Homo sapiens: one gene and its partner. The protein of the gene in region 1 interacts with the protein of each later gene in a biochemical or structural test. Each region holds a gene or a part of one and is shown in the gene's direction. Other genes may lie near its edges. The genes, in order: NFE2 and ATF7.

Region 1 (3,520 bases):
CTCAGCAGCCACTTGACTCACATCTCTCTCTACCCCACCTCCTGCTCTCCCTCCCGTGCTCACCTTCTTCTCTTCTGACCTGCCTCTCTGATCCTGCCATCTTCTTCCCTCATTACCTCCGCCTGCCCTTGGCAACTGGGCCCGTTTACCCCAGGTAACAGAGCAGTAGTTCAGGGGCCTCAGGAAGGGGAGTCGGACTATGCCAGGGTCCTCTCCTCCTGCTACTTGGACAAAGGGGTGTCTGTTGGCTTGACAATGATGCCTTTGTCCCCAGCTGGGCTGGAGCAGGGTGGCTCCCTGATGTAGGTTGGGGGCCTTGTTTCTAGCATGTTCTCTACTTCTCGCTGCACCTGGGCAGGGACAGAGGGACTGAAGAGGAGAAGGCAGAGCTTGTGCTGGCTCCCCAAGGTGCTTCTTAGCCCCCAGCCACCCCCCTTTTACTACCCTGCTACCATGCTTAGCACCCTCAGGATCTGCCCTAGGCCCTCTTCCCACACAGCGGCTCCCTCTGCTGGGCATCTGGGGCATGGCCAGGATCTGAACTTGACCCTTTGACCCTAGATAACTGCAGCAGGAAAGGGTTCTGAGGGGTCATCTTGGATAAAAAGGCTTTGACTTCCTGAAGGAAATAAAGGAACATGAGCCATTTCTTTTTTTTTTTTTTTTGAGACGGTGTCTCGCTCTGGCGCCCAGGCTGGAGTGCAGTGGTGCAATCTTGGTTCACATCATTCTCCTGCCTCAGCCTCCCAAGTAGCTGGGACTACAGGCGCCTGCCACCACCCCAGCTAATTTTTTGTATTTTTAGTAGACAGGGGGTTTCACCGTGTTAGCCAGGACGTTCTTGATCTGATCCTGTGATCCGCCCGCCTTGGCCTCCCAAAGTGCTGGGATTACAGGCCTGAGCCACCATGCCTGGCCGAACATGAGCCATTTCAACCCAGTAAGAGCTTCTCCAAGGAGAGTTCATAATTGTTCCAATGTTAGGTAGTCTTTTCTGCAGTCCAACCTCAGTGACTTCCATTCTTGCTAAAGCTGCATTTTTCATTTTTTCTTTTTTTGAGAGGGAGTCTTGCTCTGTCGCCCAGGCTGGATAGTGGCACTATCTTGGCTCACTTCAACCTCCACCTCCGGGGTTCAAGCAGTTCTCCTGCCTCAGCCTCCCAAGTAGCTGGGATTACAGGCATTCACCACCATGCCCAGCTAATTTTTGTATTTTTAGCAGAGATGGGGTTTCACCATGTTGTCCAGGCTGGTCTCGAACTCCTGACCTCAGGTGATCTGCCGCCTTGGCCTCCCATAGTGTTGGGATTATAGGTGTGAGCCACCATTCCTGGCTTTAAGCTGCATTTTTCTTGCAACAACTGTATCATAACTTTGCAGGAAGCTTCCCGTGATTTGTGGCAACTTTGTTTCCTTGTTACTACCTCACTGCGACTTTCAGAAGAATCCAGCTTGTTCCTGAGAGAGTGTTGGTTTCTCTTCCTTAGTCTGTCTCCAAATCTCTTTGTGTCTTTCCTTGCAGGGTCTGAATGCTCCAAGTGAGCCATCATTTGAGCCCCAAGCCCCAGCTCCATACCTTGGACCTCCACCACCCACAACTTACTGCCCCTGCTCAATCCACCCAGATTCTGGCTTCCCACTTCCTCCACCACCTTATGAGCTCCCAGCATCCACATCCCATGTCCCAGATCCCCCATACTCCTATGGCAACATGGCCATACCAGTCTCCAAGCCACTGAGCCTCTCAGGCCTGCTCAGTGAGCCGCTCCAAGACCCCTTAGCCCTCCTGGACATTGGGCTGCCAGCAGGGCCACCTAAGCCCCAAGAAGACCCAGAATCCGACTCAGGATTATCCCTCAACTATAGCGATGCTGAATCTCTTGAGCTGGAGGGGACAGAGGCTGGTCGGCGGCGCAGCGAATATGTAGAGATGTACCCAGTGGAGTACCCCTACTCACTCATGCCCAACTCCTTGGCCCACTCCAACTATACCTTGCCAGCTGCTGAGACCCCCTTGGCCTTAGAGCCCTCCTCAGGCCCTGTGCGGGCTAAGCCCACTGCACGGGGGGAGGCAGGGAGTCGGGATGAACGTCGGGCCTTGGCCATGAAGATTCCTTTTCCTACGGACAAGATTGTCAACTTGCCGGTAGATGACTTTAATGAGCTATTGGCAAGGTACCCGCTGACAGAGAGCCAGCTAGCGCTAGTCCGGGACATCCGACGACGGGGCAAAAACAAGGTGGCAGCCCAGAACTGCCGCAAGAGGAAGCTGGAAACCATTGTGCAGCTGGAGCGGGAGCTGGAGCGGCTGACCAATGAACGGGAGCGGCTTCTCAGGGCCCGCGGGGAGGCAGACCGGACCCTGGAGGTCATGCGCCAACAGCTGACAGAGCTGTACCGTGACATTTTCCAGCACCTTCGGGATGAATCAGGCAACAGCTACTCTCCTGAAGAGTACGCGCTGCAACAGGCTGCCGATGGGACCATCTTCCTTGTGCCCCGGGGGACCAAGATGGAGGCCACAGACTGAGCTGGCCCAGAGGGGTGGAACTGCTGATGGGATTTCCTTCATTCCCTTCTGATAAAGGTACTCCCCAACCCTGAGTCCCAGAAGGAGCTGAGTTCTCTAGACCAGAAGAGGATGACAATGGCAACAAGTGTTTGGAAGTTCCAAGGTGTGTTCAAAGAGGCTTGCCTTGAGGGAGGGCTGGAATCTGTCTTCCCTGACTCGGCTCCTCAGGTCTTTAGCCTCCACCTTGTCTAAGCTTTGGTCTATAAAGTGCGCTACAGAAATGGCTTTTCACTGTGTCTTCCTTCTTGAGGGAGGGTGGAAGCTGAGATAATTATCTGTTTGAATCTTACCAAGTTCACTTCATTCTCCCCAGAGCTCTGTATGAGAGGTACCATAAAATTTGGGCTTGAGGCTGAGCATGGTGGCTCACACCTGTAATCCCAGCACTTCGGGAGGCCGAGATGGGCAGATCACAAGGTCAGGAGTTCGAGACCAACCTGGCCAAAATGGTGAAACCCCATTTCTACTAAAAGTACAAAAATTAGCTGGGTGTGGTGGTGCACGCCTGTAATCCCAGTTCCTCAGGAGGCTGAGGCAGGAGAATCACTGGAATCCGGGAGGTAGAGGTTGCAGTGAGCTGAGATTGCGCCACTGCACTCTAGCCTGGGTGACAGAGCGAGACTCCATCTACAAAAAAAAAAAAAAAAATCTGGGCTTGAGCAGTATGGGGATCTACCACCTTCACCTCCTTTTCAGAGTCAGAGGCCATGGATGATCTGAAGAACCCCACACTCCCTGGTGGTGCCCTATTTGTAGAGCTTGGAGAGCTGTCCAAACTGACTAGACACCCTGTGCAAAGGTTCCTGATGTTTACGTCTCTTTTCTCTCAATTCTCCCAGCACAAAAAAGCCCAGGATGCCCATAGGCCTTTCTTTTTTTCTTCCCCTCCTGCTTACCTCTCAGCCTGGGTCCTCCTAATGTGCCAGAGTTCTCTCAGAAGACTGAATG
Region 2 (3,817 bases), 770 kb from region 1:
GCTAGAAGGCAATGGCCACAGAGTTGTGCTCAGGACATGTGCAATTCTGAAGTTAAAATTACTGTGAATAATTTGCCTATGGTCAATAAAAGCTAATAAATGCTAGTTTTCTTTTTACAAATTAAATTCATAGAACTATTGCTCTCAAACTTTGATATATTGTATTATTTTTCCACTGTATTATTTCAGAGATGTGTTCCCATAGAAAAGGAGTAACTATATCACCAATTTTAAACATCTCTACTTAAATTTTAATTTTAATATGTACTTCAGGGTGCATTCATTCATTAAGCAGATATTGATGGAATGTCTATTCTGTGCCAGTCACTGTTTTTCATGCTGGGGATATAATAGGGAACCAAATAAATTAGATTAAATCCCTGCCCTTGAGGAGCTTATATTTTAGTGGGTGAGACAGACAATAAACAAGATAAATAGGTAAAATATATGACATGTTAGATAACAGTAAATGTTAGAAGAAAAATAAAACAGGGAAGGGTAATATGAAATGTTAGCAGCAGGATAGAAATTTTAGATTAGGTGGCTTTTGAATAAAGACCTGAAGGAAGTGAGGGAGCTATATGCATTTATATGGAAGAAAAGTACTATAGGGAGGAGGATCAGCAACTGCAAAGATGCAAAGTCGCAAGGTACCTGGTACATCTAGGAACATCAAGGAGGCTCAGCTGGAGTTGGGGGTGGAGAGTAGTTGGAGACAAGTAGGGGACGTAATAGCAGCATTTTATGTAGGGTCTCATCAGTCATGGTGAGGATCTCAGCTTTTACTCCACACTGGGGGCCATTAGAGGGTTTTCAGCAGAAAAGTGATATAATTGATCTGACTAGGCTGGGCGCATGCCTGTAATCCCAGCACTTTGGGAGGCCAAGGCAGGCGTATCACCTGAGGTCGAGAGTTCGAGACCAGCCTGGCTAACATGGTGAAACTGCTTCTACTAAAAATACAAAAAATTAGCTGGGCGTGGTGGCATGCGCCTGTAATCCCAGCTACTTGGGAGCCTGAGGCAGGAGAATCACTTGAACCTGGGAAGCGGAGGTTGCAGTGAGCTGAGATGGTGCCATTGCGCTCCAGCCTGGGCAACAAGAGGGAAATTCCGTCTCAAAAAAAAAAAAAAAATTGATCTGACTTACATTTGAACAGGACATCAGGGGTACAAGGGCAGAAGCAGGCAGTCCACTTAGGGGCTGTTACGGTAATACAAGCAAGGGATGACGGTAGTGAAAGTGACGAGAGCAGGCTGAATCCAGGATATGTTTTGAAGTTAAAGTGATGAGAGCAGATGGGATGGTATATATGAGAAAAAGAATAAAAAATTACACCAAAGTTTCTGGCTTAAGCAACCACAAGAATGAAGTTGTCATTAATTGAGATAGGGTAAAGTGTAGGGGAAATGGTTTGGGAGGTATATCAGGAACTCAGTTTTGGACAAACTGAGTTTAAGGAGCCTATTAGGCTTACAGGTGGAGATGTCAAGCAGTCAGTTGGTTATATGGATTTGTAATTCAGAGGAAAGGCTGAAGATAAAACTCTGGGAGTCGGCAGCATATAGCTAGTTTTGGTTTTGTTTGGTTTGGGATTTTTTGGAGGCAGGGTCCACCTCTGTCTCCCAGGCTCTCAAGTGATCCTCCCCACTCAGCCTGAGTAACTGGGACCACAGGCGTGCACCACCATGCCCAGCTAATTTTTTTTTGTTATTTTAGAGATGATGTTTTGCCATATTGGCCAGGCTGGTCTCAGACTCCAGGACTTAAGGGATCTGCCCGCCTTGGCCTCCCAAAGTGCTGGAATTACATGTGTGAGTCACCACACCTGGCCATAGTTAGTTTTTAAAGCATTGAAACCAGATGAAGTTCCCAAGGGAGACAGCAGAGCTAGAAAAAGAGAAGTCCCAGGAATGAACCATGGGGTACTCCAACATTTACAGTTCATAGAAATGAGAAAGAACCCACAAGAGACTGAGAAGAAACAACCAGGAAGTGAGGAGGAAAACCAGCTACAGAGCCAAATGTGGTATTCTGTAAATCAAAATAAAAAAGTGTTTCAAGAAGTTCAGTGATTTTAAATCCTGTTGCTCGGTGGCTCACGCCTGTAATCCCAGCACTTTGGGAGGCTGAGGCGGGCGGATCACGAGGTCAGGAGATCGAGACCATCCTGGCTAACACGGTGAAACCCCATCTCTACTAAAAATAAAAAAAATCAGCCAGGCATGGTGGCGTGCATCTGTAGTCCCACCTAGTTGGGAAGCTGAGGCAGGAGAATCGCTTGAACCCAGGAGGCAGAGATTGCAGTGAGCCAAAATAGTGCCACTGCACTCCAGCCTGGGTGATAGAGCAAGACTCTGTCTAAAAAAATACCAAAAAAACAAATCCTGTTGATGGGCTAAAGAGGATAAGGACTGTTTATCAGTATATAATCTATATACGGTCAGTTTTCCACTTAGTCCCTGCAAGAACTCTGATACATAGTTAATCCATTAAACTACTTATTCTTTTTTTTTCTCCTGCCTCAGCCTCCCGAGTAGCTGGGACTACAGGCGGGCACCACCACGCCCAGCTCATTTTTGTATTTTTAGTAGAGACGGGGTTTCACCATGTTCCCCAGGCTAGTCTCCAATTCTTGGCTTCATGTGATCTGCCCACCTCTGTCTCCCAAAGTGCTAGGATTACAGGTGTGAGCCACCGCACCCGGCCTTACATATTCATTATAGCAAAGATGTATTTAGTTCCTGCTGTGTGGTATAGATATTATGTAAGTACCTGACACATGATGAATAAGACACTGTCACTACCTCTGAGAGAATCATAGGGTCATATAAACCTGTGGATGAGGTAAGGATAGATATCCCAGTTAAAAAGCCCCTAAACTGGGAGCTTCCTAAGGATAGGGTTCCCGTTTTCTTCTCTGTGTACCCATGCCTGGTACATGGATGATGCTCAGTAAAATGTTTGATGAATATATGCTGTGAAAACACAAAGAATAAAACAGTTAATGTACTGAGGGTAACAAAGATGGCTTCACAGAGGACGCAATATTTGAATCTTTTTTTTTTTTTTTTTGAGACGGAGTCTCGCTCTGTTGCCCAGGCTGGAGTGCAGTGGCACAATCTCGGCTCACTGCAAGCTCTGCCTCCCGGGTTCACACCATTCTCCTGCCTCAGTCTCCCAAGTAGCTGGGACAACAGGCGCCCGCCACCATGCCCAGCTAATTTTTTGGTTTTTTTTTTTTTTGAGTAGAGACGGGGTTTCACCATGTTAGCCAGGGTAGTCTCGATCTCCTGACCTCCTGATCCGCCCAGCTTGGCCTCTGAAAGTGCTGGGATTACAGGCGTGAGCCACTGCGCCCGGCCATATTTGAATCTTAAAAGAAGACTCAGGCATTCATCAGGATGTCAGAAATACAACTGACTATGGAACGTTTGCCTTTTTTCCACATATTTCTGTTTAAGCAGCCATAGAGGCTATCCGATGTTTAATAAAACTCCTTGACTTGCTGAGTGTGATGACTCATACCTGTAATCCCGGCAATTTGGGAGTCTGAAGCAGGAGGATGGCTTGAGGCCAGCAGTTGAAGGCTGCTGTGAGCTGTGATTGTGCCATGGCACCTCCAGCCTGGGTGACAGAGTGAGACCCTCTAAAAAAATTTTAAAAACATTTGACTAATGAGCAACATGGAGTTACCATTGTATGTAGCTCAGGTAGTTGTGTTTAGTAGTAAAATGTTAGTGTCACTTTAGGTGGAGTGGCATAACTTATAATGTTTTATAATCATTAATGCCTAGCTAATTTTTAGTCAGGAGGG

What was found.
Region 2: the proteins of NFE2 (region 1) and ATF7 interact in a test that uses a peptide from one of them, tested with the Homo sapiens proteins (one large-scale study listed by IntAct).

What each region holds. Positions count from the first base shown.
Region 1 is NC_000012.12:54,291,384-54,294,903, reverse strand, and holds the end of NFE2 (transcription factor NF-E2 45 kDa subunit), read left to right. Parts: intron 1-50; exon of another isoform or gene 51-154; intron 155-1,522; coding exon 1,523-2,530; 3' UTR 2,531-2,793; downstream 2,794-3,520. UniProt on the Homo sapiens protein: Component of the NF-E2 complex essential for regulating erythroid and megakaryocytic maturation and differentiation. Binds to the hypersensitive site 2 (HS2) of the beta-globin control region (LCR).
Region 2 is NC_000012.12:53,518,312-53,522,128, reverse strand, and holds part of ATF7 (cyclic AMP-dependent transcription factor ATF-7), read left to right. Parts: intron 1-3,817. UniProt on the Homo sapiens protein: Stress-responsive chromatin regulator that plays a role in various biological processes including innate immunological memory, adipocyte differentiation or telomerase regulation.